2 linked regions of the Homo sapiens genome follow. The protein of the gene in region 2 purifies or fractionates together with the protein of the main gene of each other region. This does not show direct contact. Each region holds a gene or a part of one and is shown on either strand. Other genes may lie near its edges.

Evidence for each region.
Region 1: the proteins of LHX6 (region 2) and KDM5C purify together in Homo sapiens (affinity purification with mass spectrometry; 3 studies listed by BioGRID and IntAct, with this or other methods). This does not show direct contact.

What each region holds. Positions count from the first base shown.
Region 1 is NC_000023.11:53,194,208-53,197,707, forward strand, and holds part of KDM5C (lysine-specific demethylase 5C), read right to left. Parts: intron 2,838-3,500; coding exon 2,479-2,837; intron 1,848-2,478; coding exon 1,709-1,847; intron 1,282-1,708; exon of another isoform or gene 1,204-1,281; coding exon 1,024-1,203; intron 862-1,023; coding exon 724-861; intron 532-723; coding exon 1-531. UniProt on the Homo sapiens protein: Histone demethylase that specifically demethylates 'Lys-4' of histone H3, thereby playing a central role in histone code. Does not demethylate histone H3 'Lys-9', H3 'Lys-27', H3 'Lys-36', H3 'Lys-79' or H4 'Lys-20'.
Region 2 is NC_000009.12:122,222,458-122,225,957, reverse strand, and holds part of LHX6 (LIM/homeobox protein Lhx6), read left to right. Parts: intron 1-3,500. UniProt on the Homo sapiens protein: Probable transcription factor required for the expression of a subset of genes involved in interneurons migration and development.

The sequences.
Region 1 (3,500 bases), on a different chromosome or scaffold from region 2:
CTCCTCAGGTCTAGGTTCAGCCTGTAGCCGTTGGCGGAGCTCAGCCAGCCGTCCCAAAAGAGCAGTCACATCTTCAGAGGCCAGAGCCTGCCTGGCGCGGCCTTGCCAGCTGATGGCCCTCTCTGTGAGGCACTGCAGGGCCTCGCCCTCGGGCAGCCGCACAGGCAGTCTCTGCAGGGCTACCAGCAGTGCCAGGATGGTCTCCAGGCGCGGGCGCCTTGAGCGCATACACAGTGGACACAGGAATTTGGTGTCCCATTCCCACCAGGCCAGCAGTGGGGATGAGGTGGGATTGGGCCTCGGAGAGCTGAGGAGGCGAGGCACTGACACACACCGCCCATGGAACCAGTCCTGACACAGGTCACACTGCAGAGCTCCCGCCCCAGCCAGCACCTGCCCACACACACAGATAGAGGTTGTAGAGGAGGCCGTGCTCGATGATGCCAGTGGACTGGGCTTGGCCGAATTGGTGCGACGCAGCTGCAGGATACCCTCCTTCTCCTTCTGTTCCCCCTCCTTGAAGGCCACGATCTGCCATACCCAGGACAGGAGCAAAGTGGGTCAGCAGCCTACCCCTTCCCTTCTCTGGGCCCCCCCTTAACACCCCCACTCCCAAACCAGGAGAACTGAGGCTCAGGGGACAAGCGGTCTGCTCATGGCCACCCAGCTCAGACACTCTATCATCACCAAGCCCTTCTCCCCATCTGTGTCGAAGCTCCTTACCACAGAGCCTGGGTCCCTGAGGTCCTGCGCAGACAGCCCCAGCAGCTCTGTGTCAGATTTGTACAACCCCAGCTCCTTCTCCATCCACCGGCTGCGCTTGGTGCTGTCTGAGCCGGCATCTGCACATGGGCAGAGAACCTGGGGCAGGCAGACAAGAGAGGGAATGACTGGGCTTCCCTTACATCCCCCGCCTCCTTCCCTCCCTGGTGCCCCTACAAAACCCATGTTATCTCATGAGCCATCTCACAGAAGCCAGGGCAGGCGTTAAGAGACGCTGTAGGTCAAGGTCCCAGGCCTCACCTCCAGCAGCGTGTAGCAAGAATTTTTCTTGAGGAAGGTCTTGGAGGCCTTCTCCCTCCAGGAGTGCGCTGTCAGTACCTGTAGCTCTAGCTGTCTCAGCTCCTCCAGCCCCACAGGTAGGTCCCGGCCCACAGCTACTAGGCCCTCCAAGTCATCCAGGCAGGGGTAGTGGTCACCATTCTAAGGCCAAGGGCGAGAGACAGCTCAGTTCAACTTGCCAATGCTATTGATGCTTACTCTGTGCCTGGCCCTGAGCTGGAAAGATGAACTGGGCTCAGTCTTGAGGGATTAAAAAAATAGGTGTCATCCTAAGGAACAACCACTTGGCTCTCTCCCACAACACCGGCATCTACTGACTGGCTCAGCCCCAAATATCTAGTCAGCCTTCTGTTGTGGTTTGCCTCTTCTCCTCTCCTCCATGCCCCTGCCCTGCTCAGTCCCATACCACCTGCTTCCCTGGCCCACCAATCTCATCCTAACCAGTGCCCTCTCTTCCTTCAGGCCAGCCTCACACTCTTCCTCTCACCCTGCTCATCAGGCACATCTTGCCTCCTGACTACATGCCATGCCCCCTTCCTCTCTCCAGCCAACCCAACCCATCCCAGCAACCCAGCACATCCCAGTGTATATGCCATCTCTTCCCAGCTGGACTGAAGGCCTGGGGTGGGAGTGGCAGGGTCCTCACTTGGATCTCATCAACATCAGCAATCCAGGCCCGGGCCTTAGCAAGAGCCTCCTTGAGAGCCTGGATGTTGGGCAGGTGAACAGGGATGTTTTCCGCTTCACGGATTATGGCCTCAAGTGTGGCTGGTGGATGCTTCTGCCTAAAGGTAAGGAAAAAAAGAACGCTCAGTCTGATGTGGTCTGCCTGACCAGAAGCCCAGCCTGACCACCAGATATATCTGCATGGGCCCCTTGGGTGTCTGTTATTCCTGCTGTCACTTGGGCCTACTTGCTTGTATTCCACCTAAGGGTAGCTGCCAGTCCCTGCTTCCCCAAGACTGCATGCACCCAACTTCATCCCTTCTGCCACAGCTCTTGCACCTCTGTTTGTCTGCCAGTCTGCTGGCCTGCTAGCAATGCCTACATATACAACCTGTATTGTGTAATCTGTTGCTGCAGTTTGTCAACTGCCCTGTGTGGGGTCTTTCTACCAACATCTGCCCATCTGCCTGTCACTTGTGCTTCTGGGTATGCGCACATTAGCCTGTAGGGCTAGTCTTCTAGATAATCTCTATCTGTCCATTTCTGCTTCTCCATCAGCCTCTCTTTGCCTTTAAGTATACAGAGTTGTTTTTTAAAAAAACGACAAGATAGACAACAAAAGAGGGGAGAGTCAATACAGTAACACAGGAGCGTGATACCTAAGGCCACCCATGGGCATCCTCTTCTGGGTCTCCACTCAACTTTGATGTTTGGAATAGGGCAGGGAAGGGAAGCAGCAGCTGGACCTACCTGGCCTCCAGGCAGAGGTGGGCTTTCTCCTCCCAGCGTTCAGCAATGGTCAGCAGTTCCTGCAGCTCGGCCTGGGCTTTATCCACAGCAGGGCTAGGGGCTACACTGGCACCCGCGACCAACAGTCCTCGCATGACAGCCAAGGTGCCCCTTCGGGCTGAGGGGGCCAGTGTGCGTTTCACCTCATCCAGCCATCGCGCCTGTTCCACCTGCCGCTGGAGCTGCTGGGCCTCAGGCACCTCCACCCCCAGCTGCCGCCCCCTCTCCAACAGGGACTGCAGTAGCCCTGGACTGGAGGGCAGTGAGGCCAGGGCCTCACGAGCCTCAGCCTGGTAGGCCTCCACCTGTTCCAGAACACCCTACCAGGACACAGGATGAAGAACAAACTCCTCAGCTGGGCCCACTGAGGGGTTCCACCACCAGATGGAACCTTGTCCCACCTATCTTCTTACCCTCCAAGCTTTTGGGGCAAAGGAGCCTAACATGGGCTGAGCTCTCCTTCTCCAAGCCCTAAGACAGTTGGGGTTCCTAACACTGACTGCTCATTAGAATGCCCTGGGGAATTTAAGAATGCAGATTCCTGGGCCCCACCCTGAGAGATTCTTAATTAACTAATAATTATTAATCTATGCTTTATTTAACTTTTCAGAGGGCTCTGTTCTCAGGGCACCAAGAGACCTCCCTGCCCTAAAAATTGCTATGATTAGTCCTCACATAAACCCTTGTGCTCACCACCCTGGGGTCTGTTGCCCTCTCCATCTCACTCCTCCTCCACCTTCATGAATTTCCCTCCACTTTCCAAGCCCAACAAGCACCCCTGTTACCTCCTTCTCCTCTACCCCTCCTCCAGGAAACCTTACCTGGACTCTGTATCCTATACCCATACCCTTGCCACCTGACCCTCAAGGCCCATTTCTAACAGACAAGTCACTAGACCCTTGCCTCACCCCTCCCACCTGTTCTTTTCTCACACGTGTGTCCTGTCTTGCCTGAACACTTTAAGCTTTTGAAAGGAGCCAAGC
Region 2 (3,500 bases):
GGACGTCATTCATGGTGGGGTCTCTCGCGGGCTGGACGCTGAGCTGGGCTTCGGACTCTTGCCCTGGCTCTGACCCTCGCTCCGCTCTGGGTTCGAGTCTGGTCCAGCCCAAAGCACCAGCGCCGCAACCGTCTCAGATCCGATCCCATACCCAAGCGCCTCGTCCTGAACCCCAACCTCTGTCTCCGGCTCCATCTCAACTCATTCCCCGGCGTCACTGGAGTGTCGCATTCTGAGCCTGGGGTCATGCGCAGGCCCCCAGCGCCTGTTCCAGTCCCAGCTTCGCTGTTGTTTTGGCCCGACTTTGGCCTCTCCAGGGTCTAGGCCTTGCCTTTAGGCCGCCAGGATGGGAAGTGGGAGAACTGGGCACCCGGAGCCCTGAGTGGGATTACCCCGGGCTGCGCTCTCCCTACTGCAGGCCGCGTCCAGCAGCCGAGAGCAGCCAGGCGCATCCTCCTGTCCTGCCGCGTCTTGGCCACTCGCCTGGGCCTCGCTTCTAGCCATGAAGCCCGGACCTGACCTGATTATGGGGTCGAGGTCACTGCAGGGTCATGGCCTTGTCTGCTGATCCCAGTGGGAGGCATCAACTGGCCTGAGGCTTGGACCACCAGGCCTATAGGATCAGAGGAGAATGGTGGAGAATCACTTCCTGAGAGGGATGCTTGTTCCCAAGTGCTTTCTCAAAAAGTGGAGAAAGCTGCTTCCCTATAACTACCCTCCAACCCACAGACATCTTTCCTATCCTTGCACAGGAAGACGTCATGGCTTCAGTCTTCCTGGCCAGACCCCTGCCCTAGAAAGAGCCTCTGGGAGTCAGGGAATATGGTGGAAGGCGATCTCCTCCTGTGCACTGGCATTGAGCCTCCAGCGATCTGGAAAGAGAAGATCTTGAGTCTAGGGGGAGGTTGGCAGCATTTGGGGCAAGGGTACTCTGAAAACCATGAGAAGCATGGTTAAAGAGACGGACTCTTCCTTTATGGGATGGATGTAGAAGAGTGTGCAGCTGGGGTGGGGTGGGGGCAGCTCAACCAAGTGGCCTAGGACTCAGTGTGCAAGGAGTGCCTGTGTGTCTGTATTGTCTGGGATCTGTGCAGTAGTGCTGGGGAAAGCATCACTGGGCAGGGTTGGGGGTATGTAGATAGCATGTGTGTTCCTTTATGGACCAACGTTTGTCTTTTAGTTCATGTGTGGGTGTCAAGAGTGGGTGTCTGTATGTGAATGTTGAGACTGTGTGTGTGCATGTGTGTGTGCGTGCACGTGCACGCAAAGTGGTGAGGACAGGATTACATCTGGACTAGGATCTGGAGGTGAGAGGGTGAGGTGAGGGGATTCTGAAATCCCATCATTCCACTCCCACCCTCTCCTCTGAGGGGGCATTCCTGCTTAAGGGCCTCCACCCAGGCACTGAGGGATGAAGGGGGTGATAAGAACGTATTTGTGAATCTGGACGGCTGTGTGTGTGTGTGTGTGTAGTCAGACAGGGGTTAATGGTGTGTAACCAGAGTGTGATGTCTCCTCTCACTGTCCCATCTGAGTATTGGTTTGGCCAGGACAGGAAATGGAGGTTACAGTCACTGTCTAGCCACCTCCCTGCTCTAGGCCTGACTCCAGTTGGTATAAAACATGCCAGATGGGCCGGGTGTGGTGGCTCACACCTATAATCGCAGCACTTTGGGAGGCCAAGGCTGGTAGATCACAAGGTCAGGAGATCGAGACCATCCTGGCCAACATGGTGAAACCCATCTCTACTAAAAATACAAAACTTAGCCAGGTGTGGTGGCACGTGCCTGTAGTCCCAGCTACTCAGGAGGCTGAGGCAAGAGAATCACTTGAACCTGGGAGGCGGACATTGTGGTGAGCCAAGATCACGTCACTACACTCCAGCCTGGGTAACAGAGAGAGACTCTGTCTCAAAAAACAAACAAACAAACATACAAAAAAACATGCCAGATGATGCTTGGGGGCTCCTTGGATTCATCAGCTACTAAATTTAAGGTGCCAGCTTGGGAACCCAGCAGAATGGTGTCTGGGTCTCTCCCATAGACTAAGGCACCACTAGGACACCTCTCCTGGCTCTCCTAACAATAGATTTGGCAGTCTTATTCACTACTTGCCCAAATTTCTTTTCTACTTCTCCAGCCCTAGCCCATGCCCATGCTGGACTGAGCCTCCTTGGATACTGTGCTTTACTAGACCTTGAAACTAGTCAAAACACGGATCCTGACTCCACTGTTCAGAGCCTCCCCTTATTCTGGAGTTCTCTTCCTACTGCAATGGGGTAGAGAGTAGGGTGTGCAGCCACTGTGGGAAGAGGCAGGAGACTGGGCCCAGTCTGGCCAGTAGTGACCTTCGCAAGTTGCTGCTTCTCTCGGCCCTTAGTTCGCCCTTTCCAAGGCTGTCTCCCAGAGCTGCCAAAGAGGCCACTGTTGGGGGGAAGTCTCTATAAAGGCTCCCTAAATGGTGGTTGGTATGAATGCCTCGATTATCACTGTTGTCATCATTGGCAGGGTGGATGCTGGGCACAAGCCCATGATGGCATTTCCCCACGCAGCTTGAGGAGCAGAGCCTGCCTGGAGGGATGGGACTGGGCCATTTCTGGGCTGCAGGTTCTGAGCACTAATCTTTTTCCAATGACAAGAGCCCTGAAAGCAAAACTAAACCAGATTTCTGGTTAAGAAAATGGAGGCAGTAAAAGCTCACATTCCCTGGGTTGAGGGTAGAATTGTGGCTCTTCTGATCATTTCTCCCCCTGCAGGCATAACCCATCCCTGGCAGCCCCACCTGTAACAAAAATAATAAAACCCACAAAAAGGGAAAGAAAAAGCCGATCGAGTGCCAGGCAAGGACTATTGTCTGCACTGCACTGCAGCCCAAGCTCTGGGTGGCTGCTATGAGGAAGTTCTTCCTGGAGAGAGTGTGAATGGTGGCGTGGGAGGCAGAATTTTCCTCTAAGGAGCTGGGGCCCAGGGAGGGGTCACATGCTGAGGTTCTCTAGGCTTCTGTTTCCTGAAGCCCGGGGTCAAGGGTCTGGTAGGATGTGGACTGGAGCACTCTGCCCAAAGAGAGGCCAAGAGCTCCCAACGGGGCAAGGGGGAGGAAGGGAGTGGCCAAGGCCCCATGGAGGGGGAGCATGGAGATCCCATGGTCCTCTAACCTCTGGCATTTTCCCCAGGGAAGAGGGTCACCTAGGTTCTATCCCCCACCTTGTCCCTCCTTGACATCATCTTATAGACCCTCCTTCAGTCTCCATTGGCAGAGCTAGCACTGGTGGCTCAGGGAATTAAAGGTTAGGAAGGAACTCCAAGTTCACCAGGGAGAGGGTCTGCAAAGCTTAGAGAAGACATGGAGGTCCAGTGCTGCTCCTGGCTCATTTGCATTGTTGGGAGAGGTTGGTTCTCATTGGCTGCGTGTCCTTGGCCAGGCCACTGGACTCTGCCTCAGTTTCTCCAATTCACACTCTAAACAGGGTCCTTACCAACCCTTGTGCGTTTATCCAGATC